Regions from separate parts of the Homo sapiens genome. Here region 1 is linked to region 2. The links come from fine-mapping of genetic effects on gene expression. A gene starts in region 2. The other region holds a variant in brackets. All regions are shown on one strand. Distances are from middle to middle.

What was found. PIP is the estimated chance that this variant, and not a neighbour inherited with it, causes the effect.
Region 1: its variant is fine-mapped to the expression of WNT11 in whole blood (INTERVAL, PIP above 0.99). The same link has a PIP of 0.9 or more in adrenal gland, blood mononuclear cells, lung and spleen.

The regions. Positions count from the first base shown.
Region 1 is chr11:76,175,466-76,189,722 of GRCh38, forward strand. It overlaps WNT11 (Wnt family member 11), which reads right to left. Exons shown (of 5, transcript NM_004626.3): 5 at 10,860-11,774. The coding sequence ends at 11,600. Among named protein-coding and RNA genes, the nearest start is that of WNT11, 24 kb to the right of the region's middle. RefSeq lists enhancers at 302-1,043, 1,044-1,786, 8,873-9,654, 9,655-10,435, 11,217-11,996 and 1 more and a silencer at 9,312-9,501. The variant T/C (reference allele first, on the strand shown) is at 10,865.
Region 2 is chr11:76,203,426-76,218,156 of GRCh38, forward strand. It overlaps WNT11 (Wnt family member 11), which reads right to left and starts at 3,077. Exons shown (of 5, transcript NM_004626.3): 1 at 2,900-3,077. The coding sequence starts at 2,982. It overlaps LINC02761 (long intergenic non-protein coding RNA 2761), which reads right to left and starts at 12,665. Exons shown (of 3, transcript XR_007062785.1): 1 at 12,562-12,665; 2 at 11,800-11,867; 3 at 7,531-7,824. LOC112268079 (a long non-coding RNA gene) reads left to right here and starts at 6,402. Exons shown (of 2, transcript XR_002957259.1): 1 at 6,402-6,494; 2 at 6,840-8,107. RefSeq lists silencers at 2,990-3,229, 4,210-4,429, 7,082-7,251 and enhancers at 3,534-4,201, 5,536-6,202, 5,821-5,870, 6,203-6,869.

The sequences.
Region 1 (14,257 bases), 28 kb before region 2:
CCCGGCCCCTGTGAGCACCAGATGCTGGTGAGGAGCTGGCTCCCCTCCTCCCAGCCAGCCCAGTGAGGGGTGACTTGGACCCCCCGCAGATTCAGCTGTTACCCCAGCCTCATTTTCCACCCCATAAAATGGACCATGGGGCTGGGGGTGTAGGGCACACCTGGAGCTAGGCTTGATCCTGCAGGCAGTGGGGAGCCACAGAGGGTGTCGGGCAGGAGGGTGGTGAGGCCGGGGCCTGTGCTCCAGCAGTGCCGCTCAGTCTCTAGCCTGCTCCCCAGAGTTTCCAATTCGGTAGGTCTGGGGTGGGGCCTGAGGGACTTAAGCAGGTGCTGGGGTCACCATTCCTGGGGTGGTGGTGGGAGAGGCAAGTGGACAGAACGGGAGCCCTGGAGTGAAGGGCACTGTGACCTTGACCCAGGGGCCCCTGAGCTGCAGCAAGGGGCTGCCTCTGCCCCCTCCGGCCACATGGAGAAACAGAAGCCCACGGGGCAGGAAGGCCCACAGTGAAGCAGGGGTGGGAGGACCCAGAGATGATCTAAACCAGCTGGGCTCAGTTTAGAAGATGTAGCCCCTTGTCTCTGCAGCCAGACTCTCTTGTTCTTTCCATCTCAGCATTTACTGAGGCCTTCCCTGGGCCAGCCCTTGTATGAAACTGAAACAAGCAGGACCACACAGGGTGACTAGAGCTGTCCCAGAGGGAGCCCAGGGTGCCGTGGGTACTAATTTGGGGCCTCTGCCTGGAGAAGTCAGGGAGGACTTGCCACAGACGGTGGTGAAGGATCATCGACGTTTCCAGGCTGCCCAGGGACAGGCAGGAGGGATGGAGACACGCAAGAAGACAGCCACGTGGGGAGTGTGGGCTACAGGGCGGTGGCTGGGAAGGAGTGCAGGGCGCTTGGGTGCAGAGAGGAGCAGGCTAGGAGGGGAGAGTCCAGAGCAGGTTGGTGGCCAGACCGGGGGGCTCCATGCCAGCCTGGAGCTAGGCTTGATCCTGCAGGTAGTGGGGAGCCACAGAGGGTGTCGGGCAGGAGGGTGGCGAGGCCGGGGCCTGTGCTCCAGCAGTGCCACTCAGTCTCCAGCCTGCTCCCCAGAGTTTCCAATTCGGTAGGTCTGGGGTGGGGCCTGAGGATTTGCATAATGCGGGGGCAGGGGGGAGACGCTAAAGCAGGTGGGGAACGATAGCACTTCCCATTCATGGAGATAGGAACCCAGAGGGGCTCAGGACTGGGGGATGAGGAGAGGAGGTTAAATCTGAGGCCCTCAGCAGGAATCAGATCCCTGTGGTGTCAAACTTCCGCCAGGTTTGAGACTGGAGAGATGTCTGGCTGTAGAGGAAAAGGCGAGGAACCTGGGATACAACTGGTCCCTGCCCCAACCCAGGAGGGGGCCCCTTGCAGGCCTGCGGCCGAGGATGGCTCCCTCCTCCAGGAACCCAAAGGCACCACCACCTCAAGCTGCCATTGCCTAGGGGGACCAAGATTGAGACCAGGACTCTGCAGTCAGACCTGGACCTGAGTCTAGTCGCCTACTGCTCTCTGTGACCCTGGGCAAGTCCCACCACCCCTCTGAGTCCTGGTTTCCCGTCCAAAATAGCTAAAACAGTACCTGCCTTACCGAGCTGTTATGAGGGTGGGGGATGGGAAAGTCCTGGGTTAACTGTACACCCCTGGACATGCACATGTTGCTATTATTGTTATTATTATTATTGGAAAAGGGAGCCTAGTGGGAAGATATGATGTCTCACCCCCAAGGAATTATAAATGGTGGAATTTCTGGCACCATAACAGGTTTGTGCAAAAAATCATTTGTGATGGGGGCCCTAGGACACTGGGGGGCTCATGGTCCTCTGTGATGTGGCTCCTGGCACAGGGCCTGAGGCAGGGCCACTGGGCCAAGATCTGAGCTTTGCTCCCTTCCACACAGACTAAATATTTGTGTTGCTCCTCCCCCAGCTTGCCAGGACCCAGGCCCCTCTCTGGTAGGGAGAGGGGAAGACCATGCTTCAGAGGGCAAAGCAGGCGAGGGTGGCGGGATTGATTACAACAGGCCCTGCTCGGCCCAGACCCCACAGCCCCCCAGCCCCTCGGAGGCCGGAGCACAGCCAGGGAATCTGCCTCTGACACACAGCGGGACTGGGGGCAGCCCTGCCCCTCTGGGCCTTAGTTTCCCCATCTGTAGAGTGGGGTTGAGGCCAGGAGAGTTGGAGAAGCTGACTTCCAAGGTCTTTCTGGTTCTCTCTCCAGTGACTGAGGCTTCCCTGAGCCTCCAGCCCTTAGTGAGCAGAGGCGAAGGGGACCTGTAAAATGGGACAATCCCTCTCGAGCTGAGAGGTGGGAGGACCCAGCAACGACAAGGATGGATGCCCTAGGGAGATGGGAGGCCTTGGAGTGGTGGCGTCAGGCTTACATGGAAGCACCCTCAAATGCCACTAATTCTCCCTCCTCCCCAACATAATACACACTGCGGCCATTTGTAAGCACCTGGTCTGTGCCTAGCATCATGGCAGGGGCTATCACAGGAGGCCAGGCCTCCAGCTCCCCAGGCAGTGGGGGTCCCATGGAAACAGCCTGATGGGACCAGCCACGAGGGTAGGCAGAGCAGTGCCTGAAGAGGAGCCCAGGTGCCAAATCCTGGCATCAGGATCTTCATGCTGATCATTTACAAGACCTCGACTCTGCCACAGGCCATCCCAAGCCCTTAACCTTACCTGCTTCTCTCAACATCCCAGAGAAGGGAGGACTGGCCTGGTCCCTATTTTAAAGATGAAAAAACAAAGGCACCGGTCACCCAGGGATTAAATGGTAGAGCTGGGCCTGGTCTGGCTCCGGAGTCACCCACAGTACCTGTTTCTTCAGTAGTAATGATGCCACGTCCTACTCACAGGATATGTGAGTGGCTATGCCAGCAGGAGCCGTGTGTGCCCTGTGCGTAGGGCCTCGGAAGTTCTCAGTAAGGGCTGGTTGTGTGCTTGTTACCACAGCAGGGGCTCAGCTGCAGGCCAAGGGCGAGGCTTCCATAATCCCAGGCAGGTGAGTCTGGGGCTGCTGCTGTGAATGTTTCTTAATCAAGGTGCCTTCCAGTAGTGCCCCTTTGCAAGCTCCTTCCAGAGATCAGCCGTCCTGCCTCCAGCAGCCAGGCCCTTGCAGGGAGCCAGGTCCCCAGGCAGAGGTGTGGGGCTGTGGCCTTTGCAACGCGTGCTGCAACCCTTCCATGGGACCAGGGCCTGGAGAGCTCTGAGTGAGACCCCCCAGTGCACCCTTGCACCAAGGGCAGCCCCCAGCACACAAGAGGTGCTCAGGAAACATGGATGTCGTGAGAGGGCAGGAAGGCCTTCAGCACAGGGCCAGGCATCTCTGCGGGCCTCTGAAGTCGGAACCACTGGGAGCCAGCACCCATCAGGAGCAGGCTTCTTGTCCCAGTTCCCTTGTCTGTAAGTCGGGGTTAGCCTGGGGAAAGATGGGGTCTGGGGGCCCACCACTCACCAGTGAGCAGCATCCTTCAAGAGGCACACATGTCCCACCTAGAGCCTGGACCTGAGCCCCAGCCTCGGGCCTGGGGGTCCACCAGCCCCTCTGGTATGGGCCCTTGCTGCCTTGGGCTTCTGCTGTGTCTGTGGACCAGGCCTGGGTCGGGTTTTTGGGGGACAGCAGGAACAGATGGTGTCCTCGCAGGCCCTGGTCCACCAGCATCTGCAGTCCCAGGACCACACGAGGTACGGGTAGGGTGCTGTAAGGGGCTGGGGGACTCGATGGTGGGGCCGGGCCCTCTCAGAGGCCCACAGTCTCCTGGGAGAAGGGCTGCAGGGCTGCAGGGCTTCGTCAGGAAGGGCAAAGCCTCCCTCTGCTCGCGCTCCATTCCGGCCTTCAGAGGAGCCCTGTGTGAGGGCAGGGCTGCGCTTCACCCCTGCAGAGCCCTCCTGTGCAGGTCCCCTGGGATCCCACAGAGCTGGGCTTTTCCAGAAACCGGAAGGCCCCTGCGAGTGTGTCTCCTGAAGAGCCCTTGCTCTCCTCACCCCGACCTTGGCCACACTGTCCTCTGCCTCGGTGTCCCCCTCCAGTCCAGCCAGGCACTGCTCTTCCTCCTTCTGTATCCAGCTGCAGCACCCATGGGGCCTTCCCTGGGAGGGCTACCCTGACTCTATCCCCTTGCCCCTGGCCCTGGGCCCCCAGCCCACTTTGCTCACCCCTCAATTACAGTCTCTTACCCAGACTCTTGGGGCTTTGGGGCCCTGAGGGCTGGAGCCATTTAGCCTCAGCTCTTACACCCCAGCATCTGCAGAGGCTGTCTCGGTGGAGGTTTGTTGACTGACTGTGTCACTGAATTATTCTTTAATCACAGTGGCTACCAGTGGATAACTCTTACTATCTATCTGCTGAGTGCTTGATGTGCATTACCTACTTTGAGCCTTACAACAAGACAAAGAGGTGGGTCCTGCCATTCATCCTGCTTCACAGATGAGCAAACAGGGACTCAGAAAGCTGAAGTAACTCACGGCCAGCAAGGGCAGAACCAGGAGCCACAGTCAGGCCTGTGCCTGTAACACATGGTCCTCCCCAGCCCCTCCCGCAGCAGAGTCATCTCTCCTTGGTGCTCTTGGATCAGAGGGTGCCCAGGTTACCTGTCCCTCACCCACAGCAGGTGTGTAGTCTAGGAGCTGGAGCTGGCTTACCTGTGTCCCCAGCCTGCAGCACAGGGCAGGGCATGGAGCCCAAGTTCAGGGGAGCTTTGGGGAAGGAATGGCAGGTTGTATAACAGGCACAACCCACCTAGCTCTGGCTGGGCCTGGTCAGCCAGGCAGGGTGCTGGAGACTTTACACACTTGACCTCTCCCGAGTGTCAGGACAAGCTGTGTTCACCCTCATTTTACAGCCAAGGAAAGGGAATTGGGGGTGCTGTGATGTGTTCAGGGTGACTCAGCTTGGAAGGGGCAGTGCAGGGTTAAAACCCTGTCTGTGTGGCTCTGACAGGCCGTGCTCCTGCCTGCTACCCAGGACAGCCTCCCGCAGAGTTCCTGCATTTCATGTGTGTTCTGGAGAGAGAGAGAGGGTGGGGTGGGTGGGTGTGGGGGTGTTGGCATGGGAGGTACGCTGTGTATGTGCAGGAGGTGGTGGGGTCTGTTTTTCTTTGCTCCTAAATGGATTTTACACCATGCCTGGGCTTTGGCCTACACAGGAAGTGTTGATCATCATTCCGGAGAATCTGGATCAGCCCCTGGTGCCGATGGAGTCTCTGTTTGCTGCGAGAGAAGCCCCCAGGGGCTTGCAGGTCCACCCAGCAAGACAGCAGGAGGGAAGGACAGCAACTGCCAGGAGGGAACAGCCTCCAAACCGACCCAGATGTCACCTGGAGCACGGAGCCCCATCACAGGCCTGCAGGAAGACCATCCAGGATGAAGAGCCAGGCCCCAGGAGCTGGCTTTGGATCAGAGGGTGCCCCGGTTACCCATCTCTCACCTGGGATGTCTAGGGAAAGGCCAGGGCTGAAGAGAGCCAGGGTCTGCCTGCAGTGGCCTCCTGCCTGCTGCTCCCACTCTGCCTTGGGTCAGATGGGACTGGAAGAGAGGGCAACCTCCGGGGGAGGGGACGTGGGGAGGCAAGGATGGTGTAGATGCAAGAAAAGAGAAATCTTGCACTTCAGGTGCAGAAAGCCATGGCAGACAGTTCTGGAGTCTTCAAGTACTAGGCATGATGGACTCGTAGTGTCTCGAGTCCAGTGTCCTGAGATCGCAGGGCCGTGGAATGGTTCGGAATGGAGGACCAGACTCTAGGAAAAATGGACTCTGGGAATCTTGAGTGTGAAGGAGGCTCCGAGGTAATGACATCTAACGGGCTATTGTCCCTGCAGCCCTCAGGCAGCCTCCTACTCCACCACCTTCTTGAGGACCGCATGCTTTTGTGGATGCGCAGACAGTGGAGACATAAAATAAATACTCCGATTTGAACGGCATCTGTGCCCAGGCGCACTGGAGGCTGGGCCTCTGGCAAGCTCTTGCCTTCACCTGCCAGCCTGAATGGGGGTGTCTGGGATGATTGTCCTGATCAGCCACGTCCTCCTCTTGCTCCTCCCCCATCACCCACCCCGGGCTCCCTGCCCCAGCGCTCCAGCCCCTCTGCTGGCGCCCAGCAGGTAAGACAATGTGGACCAAGGGGCCGGTAAGGAGACTGTCTTCAGCAGCCACAAGCCTGGGGAGCAGAGCGGATATTGATTTGGTATATGGGAGCAAAGGGACCATTAAACGTGCGGCTGTTAAATTGCTCTGCCTGGAGCCAGCCAGCTCTGCGGGCGGGCGGGTGGCCTGGCGGGCAGGCGGCGGTCAGACCAGTCGGCTGCTAGTGCCCTGTTGGGGGTGGTCTTGGATACCTGGCAGGACCCAAGGCAGCCTGGCTTGGATCCTTGCTGCCCTGGTGCCCACAGGCCCCTGAGCTCCAGCCATACCCACCTCTTGGCCTCCTCTGAGCATACTTTGCTGCCATGGCTGTTCTCACACAGACCCCTCCACATCACCTTCTTCTCCATCTCTTAAAATCCTGCCCCACTTTCCAGACCCAATGCAAATGGCACCTCTTCCATGAAATCTTCCTGATTTCCCACTCCTTACTCCCAGTACCCAGAAAGGAGTAGGCCTTCCCTCTCCAAATCCCCAAAGCCCCAGGGCTCTGCCTGTCTTCGGCCTCCTGTCTTCTCTGCTATAATAACTAAGAGTTGTGGGCCCACTGAAGAGGACACCTGAGCTTCATGTGCTCCCCCGTCCCTCGCGCCAACACACACACAGGTGAGGCCTGGGCGGCCAGGCACACAGGCGATGCTGAGCAGCTCACCTGAGGAGGGCAGGGCGGGAACGTGTTAGTTGAGCTGTGGCCTGATCCTGATGGGCAGCTCCTTCCTGGCACCTGCGCCTGGACTGCGCTTCCCAGGCCCTGCAACAGATGTCAGGAACTGCTCAGTCTTGAATTGTTCCCTGTTCCTCTCTTGCAATGCCCTCCAGCGGCTCCCAGTCAAAACCCCCACTCAGTCACAGACCACCTTCATCCCTGGGATGCATGTTGTGGAGGCTGAGACAAGCCCAACAGTTGGAGCCAAGCAGTCCGAGGTTTGAATCTCAGCTCCTCCACTAATTATTCTCTAACATTGGGCCAGTCACTTCCCTCTCTGAGCCTTAGTTTCCTCATCAATAAAACAGAGATACTGGGTCATATCCCTTAGATTGGGTGTAAGAATTGGACAAAACAACTGCCGAAGAGGCCCAGAGAGGGCCAGTGGTTGCCTAGAGTCACACAGCAAGAAGCTAGAAAAGATGCAGGATTCCTACCTCCTAGCCCTAAACTCCCCTTACCCCGTCCAGCCTCTCTGGGTCTGGGGTTCCGGACTGGAGACTGCATCATGCTGGGGCCTGGTTTGTGTAACCCAGTGGCTGGTCTCCACAGCCTCAGGAACCACAGACCAGTGGCTTGCTCAGGGCTGGGCTTGGGCCCCTTGGTTGTTCCTCTGGCCTGGCCTGGCCTCCTCACGGGGTCTTATCTGTCCACTCTCCCCTTTCCCACCAAACTAATCTCTCCCTCTTTTCAGGAGTTCCTGTTTCCTCTCTGCCGCCTTCTTGTCTCCCTCCTCAGACCCTGTCTCTCCCAGGTCTCCAGCCAGCCTCCCACACTTGGTTCAGAGCCGCCTCAGAGCGGCTGGTGCTGTCATCACTGGGGAGTCTCCATCTTTCGGGGGCTCTCCAAGCCTCACACAGCCCTGTCTGTGACTGCTGCCCCTTACACAGGAGGGAGATGGAGCAAGTCCTGGGAAGGGAAATCTGCTGGGGACAAGAATTCTGACACCCTCAGATCAGTATGCAGCCTTCAAAATCCTTTGGGTTGGCCATTGGCCTGGGGGCCTCTACAGGGCTGGCAAGGCAGTGGTTTGGGGTTTCTACTCCACAATTCCTGAGTACCAAGATCTCACGTTTCCAAATCTCTGAACACAATGAGATCCTGAGCTACCAGAGCTCCGAGGTCCTGGGAGCCTCCACACCCCTGTGATGCACCTGGCAGAGGCCCCAGCATCCACCTCCCCGGAGTGGGGCTCAGCCTGGTTGCATTCTTAGAGCCTTGACCTGGGGGTGAGGGGAAGCACCGGGACCAGCTCCCACTGCCCTTCGGTTGTCCAGCTCCTGGCCAGCCAGAAAGGTTAAGTGCTTTGTCACAGATGTGGGGACGGGCCAGTAGCCCGCTGAGTCAGGGACCCCCCCCCAGGGTCTCCTGTCCTGAGCTTGAGGACTCCCCTCCCAGCCCTCCAGCTCAGCCCAGGAAACGGTCTTCAGCTCTCCATGCAGCTCCCCCGAGCCTGCTGGGAGTGCGGACATGTGAGCAGGAACGCACCTGCGCTCAGAGCCCTGCTGTGCTGGGAGTTTTCCTGAGGTCTGGAGCGAGCCGCCTTTTCTTGCAGAGCCTCAGTTTCCTCCTCTGTCAATGGTAACAATACTCACTTCGGAGGGCTGCTGTGATGACTTGGGCCACTGTGTTTAGAAGGTCACACAGCAGGTGCACAATAAATGGTAGCAGTTATATCATGTGGCCACCCTTTCTGAGAGCCATTCTGGGTCCTTGGTCTGGTTTCCCCATTTACTTGTCCTGACAGAGGTCCAAAGGACACTCCCAAATCCAACATTTTGGAGGTATGTTTTATACCCAGCCCTGTTGTGCTGCCCCCCAGATCCCAGGGCCCATTGGTGCATATGGCTGGTCCCAGCCCATGAAAAGGCCCCAGACAGGTGGGGAAGACAGATGATATGACACAACATAGGCCTCCACAACACCTTGGTTCCATGAAACATTGCAGGGAGCACAGAGGCTGTGGAAACCCAGAGGAGGCCCCTGACCCAGGCTGAGGGTAGTTGGGGAGGGCTTCCTGGAGGAGGGAGCCATTTACCTGGCTTTTGCAGAAGAGGGCATTGGCTGGCAGCTTGAGAAGGAGGGTGATGGCTGCTTTAAATGTTCAGAGGGTTGTGGGGTGCCTGAAGAGGGGGAGATCCCTTCCACCTAGGGCACTGGGGAAGGTTTTGTGGAGAGGGCTGTGAGGGTTGTGTGGGATTCCAGCAGGGAAAACAGCACTCTTGGCGAGGGAGAACAGCAGATGCCCAGAGGGCAGGCAGGCTGAGCAGCTGGGAGTTGCAGGAAATGCTGTTGGAAGAATCGCCTGGGGGACAGGCCTTGTGTTCCAGGCTAGGGACTGGGGATTGGTTTTGTGGGCTAGGAGGTTGCTGAGAGCTATGAAGCAGGGAAGCCCTGGGCCTGGAGAGCGCACATTCCAGGGGCTCCTTCCAGGGAGGCTGGGGGTTTTCAACAGAGGGGCTGGCAGGGGCCCCACCCGGGAAGGCTCCACCTCCCCCCGTTCCCAGCCCCTTATCAGCTCTGTGACCACAGGAAGGCCCTTCCCATCTCTGAATTTCCTCATCTGCAAAACACACCAGAAGACTTATCTTGAGGTTCCTTGCAGCTGGTGACGCTGTGGCTCTGGCTGTCCGCACTGCAAGCTTTCAGGCAGGGCCTCGAGGATGGCCACAGAAGGCCCCCTTCTTCCCACTCAGGATGGGTCCAGCCCCTGAGGGGTCATCCATGCCATCCCACCCCCAAGGATGTGGCTTCACTTCTCCAAATCCTGTGCAAGGCCCCGCTCTGCCCCAGCCCCTCCAGGTGGTGTCTCAGTCCTCAGCCGGCTCGGGGAGGGAAGAGCACTGGTACTAAGTCCGAGTCTCTCTGGTGCATGCAGAGATTTGGATTATAACATCCTCTTACACCCCAGCCACAGCAAGATCCAGGTGATGAACCACTGCTTCTGTTTCGGGGCCACCTGCCCTGGCCAGGCACTGGGGATACCCCACTTACTCATCTCTTGGTTACTGGTGCTGCCTCCATGAGGGAGGTGACACGGAAGCTCAGAGGGACAGTGATGTGCCTGCGGTGATCCTGTTCCCCTTGGCACCCTGTCTTCACTTGGCAACAGCCAGGACCGCCGACCTCCCTCCTGCCTCCCTGGCTGTTCCTTCTGTCTCCTGTGTCTTCTCTGAGCTTCATCTCCCCAGCCTCCAAGGCAGGAGTGCCCCAGGCCTTGGTCCTCTTTACTCTTCTATCCCACACACTCCCTTAGCGATGACACCCAAATGTGGATCTCCAGCCCTGGCCGCTCCCCAGCACTCCAGACCCGGATATCTGCCCGGCCACTCAGTATTTCCACTAGGAGCGTAAACTGTATCACAATCCCCACGGGCCCAAATCTGAACCCCAGGCCTCTCCCCACCCCCATGTCGGCATTCGGCCCCTTCAGCCTTCCCAGTGCTCCAGCCAAAACCCCGGCAGTCATTCTTGGGCCTCCTTCCCCTTACACCCCACATGCAAAAAGAGAACAAATCCTGTTGGCTCCCCCTTCAAAACAGAACCAGAATCCAACCACTTCTCAACACGTCCAATGCTGCCAGCCTCCAGGCACGAGGCCTTTCCCAACCTTCAGCCTTCCTCCCCACCACTCCCATTTTACAAATGGGGAAACTGCAGCTGGCAGAGAGCCCTCCCCAGGGTCACGCAGAAAACCCACCAGGGCTAGCTAGAGCCTGGATCTGCACCACCTCCCCGAAGTCTGCATCCCAGCTGCCCAGGGAGTGTTTTCCCTTGAAGCCAGCTTAGCAGGCAGGCCTGACAACACGGCCAGGCTTTGAGCTGCGCCTGCGTGTGTGTCCCTGAGGAAAAAAGATGCTGCCAGCTGGGTTTATGTTTCAAGACGTCTGTCCTCGCCCTTGACCAAGAGCTCTTACAGGGAGATCAGGGCCAGGGCCTGGTGTGGGGGGAGCGCGGGGGGAGAAGGGACATCAATCGGAAGCCGCCTTGCC[T/C]GGAAACTGGAGAGCTCCCTCTGCCAGCCCCAGGGTCTGCCGAGTTCACTTGACGAGGCCGGGAACTGCAGGGGCGGGCTGGGGCTCACTCAGCATTTATTTCATACAGCTGCTTAAAAAGCTAGTTTTAAAATAGAGATCATTATATATATACATATATATTTATATATATAAAATATATAAAGAGGAATTGAGAAGTGCCACCCCAAAGAAAAAGCTATGTTTTATAAATATTTCTGTAGCTTCCACATCCCAAAGGAAGAAAAAGCAAAAAACAAAAGAAAACATTTACAACCCAAGCTAGTGATTCCATGTGGTGGGCCCAGCAGGCTCAGACCCCAGGGTGGGCCAGGGGGTCCCGCAGAACATTCTGAAGAAGGCGGGCAGACCCCTTCCCGGAGGCTGGTCTCTGTGGCCCTGAAAGGTCAAGTCTGTATCAGTCTCACCGATCCCAAGCCCCGCTCCTTACACCAGCCTGTGGGCACTCCAGAGCCTCAGGCTGCCAAGTTATTTTTAATCTTGTCGGTTTCCTTTGATGTCCTGCCCTCCTTCCAGGGTGGCCAGACCTTCTGTTCCTGGTGGCTTCCAAGTGAAGGCAAAGCACAAGCCGCCTCCCATGCCTGGCATCTGGAATTCACAAGCAGAGCTCCATGGAGTGTCTCCAGGCCCCTGGCCCCAGTTGCTGAGGGTCCTTGAGCAGAGTCCTCGCTCCTGCGTGGGGCGGAGGGCAGGGCCTCACTTGCAGACATAGCGCTCCACGGTACGCTCACACCTGCGGCAGGTGACGTAGCAGCACCAGTGGTACTTACAGTGGCACCGCTCGACCACGCGGTCTGTGTAGGGGTTGTAGCCACGCCCGCAGCACATAAGGTCGCAGCTGTCGCTTCCGTTGGATGTCTTGTTGCACTGCCTATTGTGGGGGCAGGAAGGAGGTCAGTGCATGCCTTGGTCACCACCCCACCAACACCCCATGACTCCCAGCCAGGCAGCCGGCAGCGTCTCCCATGGCCACCGACTCAGCCCTTCTTAGAAGCTGTCTTGATCTTTGGGGAATTTTAAATAATCCTCTTACCTAAAGGTACTTCTAACTTTTCCCTATATTTCTAATAAGGGGTTACCAAAATGATGGGGCTGTTTTCTTTTATTTTTTTGAGATGGGGTCTCACTCTGTTGCCCAGGCTGGAGTGCAGTGGTTGTGATCATGGCTCCCTGCAGCCTTGACCCCCGCCTTCCCCACCACCCAGGCCCCCGGCTCAAGTGCTCCTCCCACCCTGGCCTCCTGAGTAGCTGGGACTACAGGCACACACCACCATGTCCGGCTAATTTTTTATTTTTGTAGCGATGGAATCCCACTATATTGCTCAGGCTGGTCTTGAACTCCTAGGCTCAAGCAATCCTCCCACCTCAGCCTTCCAAAGTGCTAGGATTACAGGCATGAGCTGCTGTGCCCAGCCTTGTTTTGTTGTCTTGGAGATAGCTTTTTTCTATTTCTTCTACTTCTAAATACTGGAAGGACCCTCCAACCAATCTAATAAGCCTATCTTTATGTGTAACCTTTTACAGAGTCTCGCTCTGTTGCCCAGGCTGGAGTGCAGTGGTGCAATCTCAGCTCACTGCAACCTCTGCCTCCTGGGTTCAAGCGATTCTCTTGCCTCAGCCTCCCGAGTAGCTGGGATTACAGGCGTGTGCCACCACACACAGCCATATTTAATCTTTAATTAAATATTATGAGAGATGTCAAGATCATTTGATTTTTAGAATCCTAGGATAAATGCTGAAATACTCGAACCCCCACTGGGCATCAGACACGCTGCTCGTGGAGGAATAGGGGTCTGTTGGCCATGTGCCTCCTGTGGGTCAGGCTCTCCCTCCAGTGTCTTATCTTAGTGGAGGCCTGTAGGGCCCTTGGGTCAGTGGAATGATTACGTCCATTATGCAGATGAAAACAGGCTCAGCAAAGGGCAGAGGCTTAAACTTGGGGACTAAAACTAAGGCCCTGACTTGCTCTCCCTACCCTAAAGGGTGGGGCATGGGAGCCAGCAGGGGCTGCATTTCTTCCCAAATGTGGGATGCGAAGACATTGAAGGTCCCTATAAAATGCAAACATCCTTCCACTGCTCTCAGTTCTTCTGTCTAGTGACAAATCATCTGTTCAGACTGGTGGCTCCTCTAGCTGGGCTGAGGCTAGACAGGGAGTGTTTTCATGAGATGTAGTTGGGGACAGAGCAGCAGGGGGCTGGGGCACTGACAGGGACAAAGGGTCCCCACATGTGGGCCGAGGAATCCCAGAATGTCCAAGATGGGAAAGTCCTAGAGATGACCGAATGCAATCCTCATATTTACTGATGGGGAAACAGACACAGAAGGGAGAGGGGCCTTGCCCGTGGTGAGTACAAGGTCTGTGAGAGTTCAGCAGGGCCTCCTGGAAGAGGAAAGGCCATCTAGGCCATTCATGAAGGATAAGCAAGACTCCGCCGTGCAGAGGAGGGAAGGAGTGCTGGGGTAGAGGGAACAGCCTGGGCAAAGGCAGAAGACGAGGCCTGCCCTCAGAACAGTGAGAGCAGATGGAAGGGGAGGGCTGGAGGCCCGGAGGAGGCTGATCAGTGCTGGGGGAGAGGCCAGGCCTGAGCCGGAAGGGGCCATGGGCAGAAGGAGGGGAGCGCCTGGGGAGAGTCAGCCGGTGACCAGCAAGTGGGGGCTGCCAGCAGTTCCCAGAACACCTGCCCCAGAGCTGGACAGACCTGGGTTCAAGCCCCAGCTCTGCCACTTAGTGGCTGTGTGACTTAAGGCAGGTCACTGAACCTTTTTGGGCTTTGTTTAGCCACTTGGCATCCATGAGTTCCCCCTCAGCCTTCTCCTGAAGGCTCTGGCTGAGCACTCTACCCTGAAGGGTAGGAAGGAGGCAGAGTTCTTTTTTAAATTTCTGGATCCCTGACATGCATTGTCTGAAAACTTGGCCTCCAGTGTCAGATCCAGACAAGGCCCGGGTGCCTGGGACCAGGATTGGGGCCAGTGGGGCCATAGGCCCAGGGAAGGGCCGTTGGATGCCTGGCTCCCAGGGTACAGGGTGGCTCAGACTGTGGGTGGGGGTGGGTTTCAGAGGTGCAGGCCTCTGGAAGAAATATGACAAGAGGGCTAGGGTTTGGAATATTGTCTGCAGATTAGGCCTTGGTTTCCCCAGGTTAGATTTGAGGAGGCTGCAAGGCATCTTCCGCAGAGAGGGAGGCAGCCTCTAGAGATACCCCGCATGCACACGCCTTTCACAGTTCACCAGGCTCACTTACACCCAACCCCCAACCTCATCATCAATCTTAAATTTCCCCTCCTCTAGGAAGCCTTCCTTGATGTCCAGGCTGGATCAGGGACCCTCTGGGCTCCCTTCACACCAGGCTT
Region 2 (14,731 bases):
CCTGGGCCTTTCCTCTCACCCCACCGCTTCCGTGGTTCACAGGAGAGTGGGACTCCCCTCAAACCCTCCCCCTACCCAGGAAAGCCAAGAAGGGGGTGGACAGCCCAGACCTGGGACCCCGAATACTTGAGGGGCTGGGAGTCTTCTGGTGCCTGGCCTGGGTGGAGGTAAGGTAGGGAAGGATCCCCAGGTTATTTCTGGGCAGGTGCCTCTATGGGCAGCCAGGTTCTGATCCCCTCTCCCCAGCCCCCATCCCACCAGCTCAGCCTGCGTCCCAGGCACCCACCAGGTGAGCATTCCAGGCCACTGGGCCATGTTGGCTTTCAGTTCCTGTGCCAAGTGCCCCTTTCATCTCCAGCTCACTCTCCAAAGCCCAGGCCAGCGGAGGCTCCTGGGTGAGTCCCCGGCTTTCCAGCCTCACTGAACACTTCCCTGCTCCCAGCTGTGCTGGGGCTCCCTGTGCCCAACAGTCCACAGAGCTAGGCAGCTTAACTCAAATCCTGCCTCTACTACCTCTGAGCTGTGACACCCTGCTAGGTAGAGTCCCCCATCTCTGTGTGCCCCAGTCTCTGTTTCCTCTTCTGTGCAACGGGGGTAATAGCAGCACCCACCTCACAGGGTGGTTGGGATATTTAAATGGAACAATATACATAAGGCACTTAGAACGGCACCTAGCACAAAGTGAGGCCATGTGTGTGTAGACATATATGTACATATACATAGATATATGCACGTGGCCTACACACGTGTATCTATATATACACATGCATACACAGATCGTTGTTATTCTTAAACTCCACCCCTTTTCCCACCTCCCCCTCTATCTTAAACTCTAGCAAGACTTTAATCCCCTATTGCTAGACTATCAGTTTCTCATAGGAGTGCAGTATGATCTAACTTACATGACCCAAGCTCTCGGAGCAGCGTCTGGGGCACTTAGGAGTAGGCTCTTGTGGTGCCTGGTTTCTCCAGGTCTCCCCGCATGCGCTGTTCGGCCTCCAGGCTTCTGCTCGTGCTGTGCCTCCCGCCTAGGACGCCTGCTTTGCACTCCGTCTCTGACCATCCAAATCCTCCCTGTCCTTCCAATCCTGGCCTATGCATCTCCCTTAGATAGAACTGATCACTCCTCCTCTGGGCTGCCATGCTCCCTCTGCTAGGACACAGACCATAGTCCACTTTGTATTTCTATATGTCCATCTCCCCCAAGAGCCTGGGGGCTTATTTAAGGCACACAATGAGTTGTACCCATTTCTGTGGCAGCCTGACTTTGCAGTGGGGACAGAGGACATGGACGTCAGGTTTAGCCAGCCGTCCATCCCACCACAGGCCAGCGTGGGGGCTTGCGTGCATCATGCCCTTTGCAGGGTCTCGGTGTTCCCACTGTGGAGCAGGGATGATGGCAGTGACCCCACAGGACTCTTATGGGCGGCAAATGACACCCAAGCCCACTGCAAGGCCTCTGACGCTCCTTCAGCCAATCCTCTCCTTCCCTGGACCTTAGTATCCTTATCTGTAAAATGGTGGCGGTGGATGAGAGAGCTTGGACTCGCTGATCGGAGGTCCCTGCCAGCTGGAACAGTGCTGGGTACCCCATTGCAAAAGGAAGGTGGCTGGTTTCTCACAGAACTCCTCAGGGACAGCTGGGAAAAGCTAGTGCCCAGGGCTGGGAGATTGCTGAGACCAGGCTTCTTGTAAACAAGAAAGGCAGGAAGACGGGGTTCCCTCCTCGAATCGTCAATTAATCAATAACTTGGCCTGAGAAGGGGCAGGGCCAGTGACCTCCAGACTGTTTGCTGGCGGCGCAGCCACTATCACCCTGTCTTCCAACTAATTCACAAACCCTTTGCAGCGCCCTCCCCAGCCCCCACAACCTGCCCCCTGCTGTCTTATCTGCAGGCTCCCTGCCCTGGCCCCAGATTCCAGACCCTTGTCCTGTCCTGGACTTTCCCTCTCAGGGAGCCCCTCTGCCCACAGCGTCCTCTCCATTGCCCGAACCAGCCAACTCCCAGCAGCGCTTCAGTCACCAGAGGCACAGCCTCGGAAAAGCTTCCCGGTGTCTCACATCTGTGTCCCCACCAGGTGGGCTTCCTTCCTCTAGGCCTCCAGATTCCCGCTCTGGTTTCTCCTCGGGCACTTGGACACTTGTGGAGTTATTTACAGCCTGGGCTTATCTCTCTCAACTTAGAGCGCAGCTCCTCCGGGAAGGGGCTGGTGTTTACTCCTCTCTTCACCACCCCCAGCCCCCTGAGCAGGCACTCCCTTCAGCTCGGCACCAAGCCTCTCTCTCCCTCCTACCCCTGCGTGAATAATTTCTATCTAAAGGAATGCCCTGCACATGTGCACAGTGGCATCTGACAGCTTCTGAGGTCCTTTCAGGAGCCTCTTCTCATCTGATTTGAGGGAGGTGGGGAGTCTCACCCTCCCGTGACAGAGGAGGACAAGGAGGCCCCAAGAAGTAGAGTGACACTTTCCCAAGGTCGCCCAGGTGGAGGGGTCAGGAGTGTCTCAGCGGAACTCCCGCTAGGGTCAAGGAGACTGACGGACAAGGACCGCTCCTGGGCTGGCCGCTCTGGATTGCGCCCCCTGAACAGAATGTCTTTTTCCATCTGCCCCTGCGGAGGTGGCCAGAAACTCCGTGGCCCTTGCGCCACCGTCAGCTGCACAGGACCAGGCGCTTCCATTGTGGTCCACGCCCGTCTCACTCCCTTTTCGCAAGCCTGCGGGAGGCAGGGACATTTTACAGAGGAGGAAACAGAGGCTGAGGGATGACTTGCCCACGACCGCCAAGCCAGCTTAGGCTCCCGGGTCTTGGTGCGCTCGCCCCATCCAGGGGACCCCAAAACGCCCTCCGCCGCCCCAGTCCCTGGCCTGTGCGCGTGGACGCGGGGTCCCTACTCACAGCCACTTGATGCCATAGCACACGCCGGTCTGGAGCGCCAGGGCGAAGAGCAGCGCCTCGCAGACCTGCGGCCGCGCCCTCATCGTCGCGCGGCGGGCGCGCCCGGGGTCACACCCAGGAGGAGCCGCGCCGAAGTCCTCCGCCTGCACGGCCGCCGCTGGTCCTGCACGCCGCCTGCAGCCGGGGAGAGCGGAGGCGGCGGGTTAAGGCGGCGCGCGGGCGGGGGAGGCGTTTTATTCAAATTACAAAGGAGGGGTCGGGGCCCGGGGAGGCCGAGCGCGGCGGGCGTCCCCTCCCGCTCCGCCCGGCCGGGGGACGCGTCCCGCGCCTGGCTCGAATTAGGCGCGGCCGAAGGCGTGTCTCCCAGCGTGGCCCCGGGCCCCAACGCGCCTTCGAGCCCCTCTGGCCGGGGCAGCCGGAAGGAGGGACAGGAGGCGGCAGAACCGGAGACCCAGGAGAGACCGGGCAGACACAGCGAGAGGGAGAAGGACGCTCAGAGGACAAGGCTGAGAGCCACGGAGACAGAGGGGGAAACCCGGACAGACGCAACCTGGGACGGAAAGGAGAGGAATGAGGAATCAGGAGTCCAGGCGAGGCAGCAGAGTCGAGGACCCGGAGCTGGGGCTTATCCCTGCAATATTGAGCATTAGTTAATAGGGCCTCGGCAATTCTCCTTCCCAAACGTGTTTCAGTTTACCTCCTCAGTAAGCTGGGGCAATTCGGGCACAATTCCGCTTTTATAAAGAACGTTCCCTGGCCGGGCAGGGTGGCTCACGCCTGTAATCCCAGCACTTTGGGAGGTCGAGGCGGGCGGGTCACCTGAGGTCAGGAGCTCGAGACCAGCCTGCCCAACATGGCAAAACCCCGTCTCTACTACGAATACAAAAAATTAGCCGGGCGTGGTGGCGGGCGCCTGTAATCCCAGCTACTCGGGAGGCTGAGGCAGGAGAACCGCTTGAACCCGGGAGGCGGAGGTTGCAGCGAGCGGAGATTGCGCCACTGCACTCTAGCCTGGGCGACAAGAGCGAAACTCCGTCTCAAACAAACAGACAAACAAAAAAAGTTCCCTAACACGATCGCATCTGCTCCTCCCAGCACCCCGTGAGATAGGCACTATCGCTGCCTCATCTCACAGATGAGGAAACTGAGGCACAGAGGTGGGGTTCAGCTAGGGAGCGGCAAGCCGGGTGTCCGGCGAAATCAGGAAATGGGGCTTGCTCGGGGCCCTGCTTTCTCGGTGTGGGAAGGGGAGGATGGGAAACGGGATGGTAGGGCTCTTTGTACAGTGAGGATTCCGAGTCTCCAAGTCCGTCTTTAGCCGCTCCACTTTGGAGGGTGGGAGTGGAAGCATGCGGGCTGGGACTGGGCAGCCCCGCCTTAGCGAAGCGGGGAAGCTCGCGGGGCTGGCGCGGTGTTGCCTCTGGCCTCCAGGCGGCGCCCTCGGGCCGCGGAGGAGAGGCTGCCCCGCCCGCCCGCAGCCCGCGGAGCAGCTATCTCCGCTTTTTTTCTCCTTCACTTCATTCTCACCTCATTAACTCCCTTCCCAGCTTCTCCCAAATTTACCAACACCTGGCGTTCGCCCGGAGTCAGACACAGCCCCAGCCCCTCTCCCCTCGGGAGGAGCAGAGACAAAGGGATTCCTTTCTAAGGGTTTGGGGAGTTGGAAAAGGAGGCGCCCACGGTAGTGGGGGCGCTGGAGCAGAAAAGGGACGTTCTTATCTGGCTCTGTGAGCTTGGGCAAGCCCTCAGCCACCCCAGCCTCGGTGTCCCCTTCCATAAGAACGAGGAATGGGGCTTCGCCGTGCGTCCCCCGAGGACCCCGTCTCCCTGCAGCCTGCGGGGCTCAGCGCCCCTCTGCTATTTGCACCGCGACGCCACCTGCGTGGCGCGTTCCTGCGCGTGGGTAGTCAGCACGCAGAGATGGGAAGCCCCACTGTTTTCTGGAGCCTGTCGGCAAAACCCACAGGAAGGCGAGGAGAAGCCTGGATCGTACAGTTTTTTTCCTCCGCAGAGCCCCGCAGCTAGCGCCCAGCACAGGGGCGCCTGCGACAAACATGCCGTCAAGGCTGGGGGTCTCAGAGGGGTTCTCGGTGTAACCCAGTCCCGTCCTCCCACCCAGCCTGTATCCAAATCCTTTGTCTTCCTGGTCCTGCAAGTTTCTTGCACTTCTCAGAACGAGAAAAATATCCGCTGGATATGGAGGGGGGAATCAAAACTCCAGTCACCGTCTTCCCCTCTCCCAAAGTGCGCCGCCCCCCGAAGGCACCCGGCATTCCTGGGTGGGGAGGGGGCGGGGGCTGCAAGAGGACGGAGGCGCGCGGACTCACAGCGGGGGATCTGTGTCCAGCCTGGTCTCCCAGGGAGAGGAGGAGCCCCCTAGGTCGCACAGCGGACGGGGACCCAGGCCTCCAGCCCCGCCCAGCTCTTTCGGTGCAGCCCCGGCTGTCCCAAGGCTCTCCCTCCGCCGCCCAAGCTCGTCGCGCGGGGAGGCAGCGCCTGGCCCGAGCCTCTGGGTCCTGACGGACTGTTCCTGTCCCTTGTACGAGCGCCCGGGACAGCCGCGCAGGCCACGGGGTCACCTTCCGCCTGAGCTCGCGGGTCAGGGTGCACGCGCCTCCTGAAGCCCCCAGCCCGCCAGGGGGCGCTAAGCCGGGGCTCGAGGAGGGGGGAATCGCGGCTGCCTCCTGCGTCGCGGGCTGGGGTCAAGTCCTCTTCCTGGGCCCCCGCTTCTCCGTCTGGGGATGGGACGACGTGTCGAGGGAGTGCCCCCTGTGTCCTGGTCGTTCTATAGGACACTTGCCGTGGGCCGCCCTGACCTGCCCGGCCCCTTGCTTGGGGCCGGGCGCGTAGTGGGCCGCGCCAGGCGTAGCACCTTTGGAGAGCGAGCGGTCACCTCCTCGAAGTTGGTCCGAGCTACCCTGCCTGCAGCGGGCCCGGGAGGCGGCCGCCTGGGGCTGTGCACAGGGAGAACACCACGAGCGCAGCGCCGCAGCCCAGCGCCGCCAACAGATGGTCATAGGCCCGGTCTGTGGAGGACTCTGGAAAGCCGGCCGCTGGGACCAGGCCACGCCGGCCCGGCGAGGACTTGCGGGGTCCCCCCTACCCCGACGCCCCACGGGCACCGTGCACCGGGGCCGATTGTCCGCGCGGCGCGCAAGGTCGGCACGGGCGGGTCCCGAAGCCTCCCGCCACGCAGCTCACGGAGCTGACCCCGCCAACCAGGGACGCCGAGCGACGGCTTCAAGGTTACCTGCGGGGCGGGGCGAGGCCGGGCCTGCCACCCGGCTTTGACCCCAGCCGTGAGGCTTTCGAGAGACGTCTGCTTGGCTGCGCACGCGGCGCCGGGTCACCCGGGAGACGGGTTGTTTTGGAAGTGGGAAGGGTGGGTGGGAGCACTCGAGATCCCTCCTGCTAACCCCCTGGAGCCGGACCCTGCACGCCCAGGGCCTTGAGGGACACCGAGGCACTTCAGCCCCGGGGGTGGGAGGCGTGGAGCTCGTGCGCGAGCTCAGCCAGATGTTCCGGGCGGTTGCAGATGTGCCTCGGGGCCGGGGACAGGACTTTCCTCCTCCCTAGCCCCCAGCCTGGAGCTCAGGTCAGTAAACAAACTCGGTTCTCCCCCTCCCCCCGCCGCCCCTGGGACCCGTTCTCAAAGCCAGGCTTCTGCCCCCATCCCCAATTTACTAGGCGCTGCCGCATTTCTTTGCCTTTTGCCACCCTTTCCCCCCGCCCACCACACACACCCTCTGTCGCGGGATCCAAGTCCCCCACCCCCGGGGGTGGCTCGGGCATGACCTCATCCGCCGAACGACTGGGAAGGAGGGGGTCGCCTGGGGTGCGGGGGCAGAAGAGGGGGGCCGGGCCGGGAAAGTTCGAGGAGGGCCGCAGGAACTGCACAACCCACCACCGTCCCGCGTGCCCCTAAACCCCGCGTCCCCAGGCTCCCGAGGCTTCGCTCCGCAAAGGGGAACTCTTCGGAGTGCTGCGGGGGAAAGGTATGGAGGAGCGCTTGGTTTGCTTACCCGGGAGTGGGTGCCCAAGGGGGTCGTGGCGGGTGCGAGAAGCGTCGTCCCCCTCGGACTCGGGCGCCCCCAGCCCTGGCGGGTCCCCGCTGAGCGGCTGCCCGCTGCCCGCGACCACTGCTCACCTCCCGGGGCGCTCGCCAGGCGCGCCCTGCGTGCCCGGGTGCCCCGGCCTGCCCAGGGAGCGGCGAGTGCGGTTTCCAGCGGGCCCGTGCGCACTCCGGCTGGGCGAGCGGCGAAGGCGCCCTCTTCGTGAAGCGGCGCGAGAAGGACGCCGGGGATCCTGGCAAGCTGCGGCCGGCTCAGGACCCGCGCGGAGTCAGGCGCGGACTCCGGCTGCTCTCTGCTGCGCTCAGCTCCCGTGGCCTGTGCTCGCCGCTCGCCCGAGCTCTCCTCCTCGCCTGGCGCGATCTCCGGCGCGAGCCTCCCAAACTGCTTTATAAGGCGGGCGGCCGCTTTGATCCGCCCACGTCAGCGCGTCGCAACCCCACCGGGTGGCCCCGGCCGCGCGCGGGGGGCGGGGGCGGGGTCCCCGCGGACGCCACTGACCGGCGGCGCCCGCCGCTCCAGAGAACTTAGTACTCTGTCGAGTTACAAAGGGGGACTCGCTCACTACAGCTGGTGTTTACTAAGCGTGCGTGCTGCGTGCCTGCGACACGCGTGGGGCCCGGGTAAGGCCCATCTCGAATCGTCGCAGCAACCAGGCAAGGAGCCTCAACTGGCAGGGGGAAGTCAGACTTGGGTCTCAGTCTGGAGCCGGGGCATCCTTAGGTGTTGGTCGCGCAGCGTGGTTACTGTAGACGTCTGAGGTCCCGAAACCTGCCTTCGTGTCCTAGTCCTGGTCCTTCGGGGGGCCATCTCTTCTGGCCTCTGGTTCCAGTTGTGGAAAAGGAATCAACGATCCTGCAAGAGAAAGAGACACGAGGACTCCGCGCTACAAAGCCCGCTGTAAACCTTAGGTGTGGAGCTGGGCGGCGTCCCAGCCGTTGGGGTGACTGCTGGGGAGTGTTCTGGACACAGGGGAGGGGGAGCAGAGGAGGACTGGGTTTCCTAAGTTAAAGGAGCCTAGAGAGGCACCTCCTGCGTCGAGTAGCCCAGGCGTGTGGTGCTTCTGGACCCCCTCACTTGGCCTCCCCTGAGCAGACCAGCTGCTTACCCCACAACATGACTGCGATTTCTAACTGCCCATCGGGTGCTGTGGGTTCATCCATGTCTCCCCCTCCTTCTAGGGGCCTCAATCCCAGGACGTCCTCAAGGATAACTGGTTCATTAGCAGAAAGGGAAATGGAGACTTAGTGAGGACACGGAGCCTGTCTCAGGTCCCCCAAAATGCCTGACATTCTTTTCCCCATTCTTTGCAGCTGCAGATGAAGTGGCACTCCTAGGCTGCCCCACACCCAGCTACAGGTACCTCCACATACAACACAAACATCTGGGCCCACAGTGCCCATAGCAGCCTCCCAGCCATACCAGTACTCCCACACAGCCAGTCCTCACACACAGGCTGGGGCATATCACCCCGCATATGGTTACAAACACACTCGGGAGATACCAGGACATATCATCTGCCCTCACACACAGTAGCACAGAGGTGTGAAATGGCCGTACACACATCATGAAGGGGAGGCTGCACACAGACCACCTGCGCGCACACAGTTCAGGTGCAAACATGCGTGAGCTTCCATGCACACACAGCTCCCAAGTGTACAATGCCTAACATGTACTTCTGCACACAATCACAGGGATATCCTTTGGAACATACGCTGGGACACCCCCATCTCTCATGCCAGAACACTGGGGCAATCTGATCAAAAAAGCAGTGGAAAGACAGTGGGCTTGGGGCATTGAGGAAGGGAAGGCGGGGGCTATTCCACCTAAGAGGCAGAGAGCAAAGGCCTCCGGGGGCCCAAGAATGTCTTCAGCTCCCCTGCCCCAGGCCCCCCGGCCACTTCAGTCAGAGCCATTCCAGGTGGTCTCTGTCTGATTGGGATGCGCACCCTCTGCCCGTTTAAGAGGCTCAGTCAGTTGCCTCCAAACATTTGCAGCAGTCCTGCCAGAAATCCCCTCTGGCTCCCGGCTAGAGTAGAAATGGAAGAATTTGGAGTCATGTAAACTTGGATTCCAATACAGATTTTGCCCAATTTTATTTTTAGCTGTGTAATCTTGAGCAAGTTGCTTAAATTCCCCAAGACTTAGTTTTCTCACCCACAAAATGGGAATAATACAATCCCATGGAATCCTCTACTTCTCCAAGATCAGGATTAGTATTCCCATTTCACAGATGTGGAAGCTGAGGCTCAAAAGGGAGCTGATATATGAACCCAGATCTCTGGCTCAGACTCCACTATGGCTGGTGGCTCCCAGTGAACACATGGGGGAAGGATAGTGACTTTCCATTGTCTTGTGGGGAGTTGAAGGAAACCAGCAGAACATCCCATACTCCTGAAGCTCAGCCCTGCCCCCTCCTGCCACCTGCCAGCTACTCAGCTGTGTCCTGTGGATCAGGACCCAGGCATCAGCTAGGGCTGGAAACCTGCCTGGGGAGGGGAGTAGGGGGAAGGGCTATGAGAAAGTGTTGCCAAAAGCTTGCATTGAAAATCAAGGGAGACTTGGGGTGAGGGTCTGCCCCTCCCTGCACCCAAGTCTCTCCATTTGCATAATAGGCAGTAATTGAGAAGAATTTTGTTTTCATCTTTAGAACCAACTGACCTACCCCCTTGCCGTCCCTTCTACTTCCCTCTGTCCAGTCCTCCTCAAGGGCCACTGTGTATCTGGCTTGTGCTGGCCACCTGGGCTGCAGGCTCCTCTTCAGAGGGGATGAGGCCCCATGCCCCTGGCTGCTGCTGCTGTGGACGTGGATGTGAATATATCTTTCTTCTCAATCAGCCCAGGCGATTCTGGTGATCTGATCACCCAGACATGCTGGGGGCTTCCTGTCAGCTGGCTTCTCAGCCCCTGCCTGACTGCCATTGGCCAGGGGCACACCCCTTTCCCCCCACCCCCGTCCTGTACCCACCCTGCCCAGGGAGGCACCCAGGCTGAAAGGACATGGAGGTAAGGGCGGACAAAGTTCCGTTCGCCTTGCTGACCTTGAGGGAGCCCTCTGCCCACTTCAGCTTCCTTCCCTTGAGGCCAAAACCTTGGTGGAGATGGTGGGGGGCAGTCACCTGTTTGCAGGGGCACCAGATGGGGGTGCAGGAAAACTGGTTGCAGTCCTGAGCCCCGTCACTAGTTTGCTGTGTGATGGCAGGTAGTTTTTTTGCTTTGTCTGAGCCCCAGTCGCCCATCTATAAGTGAAGGGTTGAACCTCTAAGGGCCTTTTCAGCTCTAGAACCCACACATCTTGGGGCTCCTGACCCAAGAATGCTGTGTGACCACAACCCCAGATGTCCCCCCCAATGCCTTCTCTGTCTTCCCTAAGCCCACTACCCCTACTCAGACCTCAGCACTTTATCCCTCCCACAACAACAAAGGCTTTTCCAGAGAAAGCCAAAAGCAGCCAGTAAGGAGAAGGGTCAAGATCACGCACCCTGGGCCACGACTTTGTGGTGTGTGAAGGGGGGATGTGGTGGGGCACCGCTCAGCTCACCGCTATCGCTTCACCAAGGGACTCAAAAGAGAGTGACAGCTAGGTGTGGTGGCTCACGCCTGTAATCCCAGCACTTTGAGAGGACGAGGTGGGTGGATCACTTGAGGTCAGGAGTTCAAGACCAGCCTGGCCAACATGGCGAAACCCCATCTCTACTAAAAATACAAAAATTAGCCAGGTGTGGTGGCAGGCACCTGTAATCCCAGCTGCTTGGGAGGCTGAAGCAGGAGAATCGCTTGAACCTGGGTAGCAGAGGTTGCAGTGAGCCAAGATGGTACCACTGCACTCTAGTCTGGGTGACAGAGCAAGACTCATCTCAAAAAAAAAAAAAAAAAAAAAGCGACAGTGTTTTGCTCCACTTTTGCTGTGTACAGTCTCTGTGGCATCATCCACAAGCACACGCCTCTCCCTCCCATGTCTGCGGGTTGGCTGGGGGCAGCTGGCATGGGCTGGACTCATGGGTCCCAGGCTCCTGGTTGGGTTTGGACCTGCTCCATAGATGACTCTTTCTAGCCTGGAACCAGCACTCCCTGGGCCATGCTCTTCTCACCACCAAACCAGCCTGTGCCATAGGACGAGCCATGAATGTGAATGAAGGAAGACCACAGGTACTCTCCCTCTCCCGACCCCAGGCCACCTGGCAGATGCTGGCTTCCCAGAACCATTTTTGTTTTGTTTTGTTTTGTTTTGAGACAGAGTTTCGCTCTTGTTGCCCAGGCTGGAGTGCAATGGTGCAGTCTCAGCTCACTGCAACCTCCACCTTTTGGGTTCAAGCGATTCTCATGCTTCAGCCTTCCAAGTAGCTGGGACTACAGGTGCCCACCACCACACCCGGCTAATTTTTGTATTTTTAGTAGAGACAGGGGTTTCACCATGTTGGCCAGGCTGGTCTCAAACTCCTGACCTCAGGTGATCCACCCACCTTGACCTCTCAAAGTGCTGGGATTACAGGCATGAGGCACTGCACCGGCCAGAACCATTTTTTGAGATCCCTCATCCTGGTCCTGGACACATCTCGAGGGAGGGCAGGGCAGGGCAGAGGCCGTCATCACCATTTCCCATTTCTCATTGGTTACAATGAGACTAAAGCGTACTGCTTCCACCACCAGGGTGCTTTTAGAAAGGCCTTTCTGAGAAGACACATGAACAGGGGGTCTGAGCAGAGGAACCCAGCCCAGCTGTTTCTGGCATGCCCTGTGAGGCCAGATCTTCCAGGCAAGGGTGGGGTAAGGGGACAAAATAGCAGCAGGCCTGTCATCAGAGCACCTGGGCCTGGCTGTCAGACTCACCTCCTCCACTTACCCACCGAGGGACTCCGGGGAAGTCACTCAGCCTCTGGGATCCTTAGTTTCATCATCTGCAAAACAGAAAGCCACGAAACCACTCCTTCTCGATGTTATTGAGAAATAATGTTGTAAGAAGTCATATTGGTTGAACAAGCACCTACTGTGTGCTAGGCAGTTTCTGTGCCTATGCCTGAGACAGGCATTGCTCTGCAGATAAGCACACTGGGCCAGGTCTGTCAGGTAATTCATACAAGATCTCTCTGTCAGTGAGTGGGCCTGGCTGCAAACCCCGGGTCTGTGGGTTTCTGGAACCTCTGCCCACTGCCCAGGGTAGGGTATGTCTTCCTCCTCCCCTTCAGTTACCTCAGGGGAGGTATTGTTATTTTACAGGGCTCAGGGAGCAGGCCTGGGGGCACCACGGAGAGATGGGAGGTGTCTTTCCTGGGTGCACATAACAAAATGCCACCCGTCATGTCTACTGAGGGCGTCACATCTGAAAGCCTGCTTTCAACTCTCAGTTGTTTAATCATGGTGGTGGCTGCTCAGGAGACAATGTGTGTGTTTCTCAGGCCTCTTTCAGCTCCAGGAGAGAAGAAACCCAACCCCAACCAGCTTCAACACCAGAGAAACTGGTTCCTGCAGGAGAAACTGGGGTGGCTGGTGGCCCTACTGCACTCAGGAGGGCTCAGGGCTGGTGCTGGTCCCCTGGAGATGCTGTGCTGTCTCAAACTCACTTCTCCTTCTTCCTCCTCTCTTTGAACTCACCCGGGCCTCATTTCTCCCCATTGGGATGCAGCCACCAACAGCCCCAGTTAGAAATTCCAGTCAAATGAGACCTCTGTCTCCTTGGGCCTCTGAATCAGTCCCAGGGAAGGCGGCTGATTGGCCTTGTTTGAGTCACGCACTCTCCCTCTGATGGACATCTGTTATTGCCACGGGAAACTGGCTCTGGGCATGGCTGGGTGCAGTGCCTGTCACCAGAAGAGGAGGCATAGGAAGCAGTGGGCCACAGGGGCATTTGTGTCAGGATGGCAGTTTCTTTTATGGTTGGGCCTCTGCTTCTCTGATATGTGTACAAATCAGCGTCTCTGCACCTGGGAGAAGAGAGGCGGCATTGTCTGAGTTTCACCCCATCACACGCACACACAGGGCCAGAGACCTACCATGCTCAGTGCCCCGACTGTACACATAGAGAAACTGACGCCGAGAGAGGGGTCGCACATCACTCGGTTAGTGGTGCAGGAGACAGATATCAGGTCTCCTGACATCCAGGCATAAGCCATGCAGTTATTTGTCACTGGTTCTGAAGCCTTTCTGAGCAGGCCAGTGAGGCAGCTTTTTAGTAGCACCAATTCCTCCCATCCCAGAACATAAAGACTCTTTGGAATGTGACTCCATGCAAAAGCGAAGGCTCTGTCCCCACCCCTCCATCTGGGCTGACCTCATGGCTTGCTTGACTAGTAGATGTAGCCTGTGTTCTGCTGCCCAGGACTCGGGGCCTTGCAGCTTCTGCCTTCACCCTGTTGGGGCCCAGCCCAGCTGCAAGGTCAGAAGCCCAGGCTGGGGCAGAGAGAGGCCTTGCTGTATCGGCTGGCCCATCAGTCAAATGCAGCCACGCGAGCGAGCCCAACAAGGTCAGCAGAGCTGCTGGGTCAGCCCACAGAAGCACGAGAGTCAATTATGGCTTTAAACTACTAAATCTTGACATGGTTTGTTATGTAGCAATAGAGACAAGAAGCAGCCAGGCTTAAAGAGTGAAAAAGCTAAATATATACACAATTATTTGTCTAATGTCATTTCAGAATCTTAGAATCTTACCGTTGGGCCACCCCCTCTCATAACCCCAAGGTGCTGGCCACCAGAGGCCCTGTAATGTCTCCACTGATCTGGGGCAGCATGTGGCCAGTGATAGCTCTGTCATGTGCTGCTATGTCCCCAGTACTGCACCAGGGCTGGACAAACAGTAATTGCTCCAAAGTTGCCAGGGATTGGAGCTCACTCCCTCCAGGATGGTGTCTTCCATTATGAATGGCTCTGTCTTGGAGAAGATCCTCCTCCGTCTAGAGCAGAGACCTCTGATTCCCCCAGGGGTCCTGGCTGTCTTCCTGGGGTCCCCTCTTATATAGGATAGCCTTAGGCACATCACGATGGTCCCTAGCATTACAAAGCAGCACAACCTCACTTAATAACAAGTATTTTTATGTACATGGTGTCCCCGGACACAGATATAACCCTAAGGGAAGTGCTTCCACCTGGCCCTAAAACAAGCATGGGCTCTGGATCACACAGTTTGGGGTTGCAACTCGAAAGCAACTTCTGTTTGGCCTTGGAAGAGACACTTCATGTCTCTGAGCCTCAGTTTTCTCACCTGAAAAATAGGAGGAGTGAAATTTATTGCCTGGGTTGCTGTGGGGCTTAAAGGAGAGATGATGTATGTAAAATGCTCAGCACGTAATCGGTCCTTGATAAAGGTTAGTTCCTTTTCTGCCAGGTACGTAAACAGTTCCAGATGGAGAGCTCATCTGTACTTAGCATTCATGTCTATATAAATAATGTGCAGGTGGGAGAGGAATTGTCAGGTGGCCGGGGAAGGGGGAGGGCGTTCCCAGCAGGGGAACAGTGTAAGCAAAGACAAGAAGAAGTTTGCTTTCAGAGAAGGGTAAGTGGGTGGTTCGGTGCTGCTGGCATGAAGAGCAACAGGAGGGAGAATAACGGGAGAGGAAGCCAGGCCCATGCCACGGAGGGCCTTCAGTGCTGGGCTAGGGAGCTTGGGCTTTGCCAAGAGAGACATGGAGGAGGTCTGAAGAGGGAAGGGGTAAGGTCAGGTTTGGGATTCAAGTCTGGGGCAGGTCTGGGGTTGGATGGGGAGGTGAGGGGAGATGGAGCTCCTGGAAGCCTATGAGGGGAAAGTGGGGTAGCAGCAGGAATGACTTGG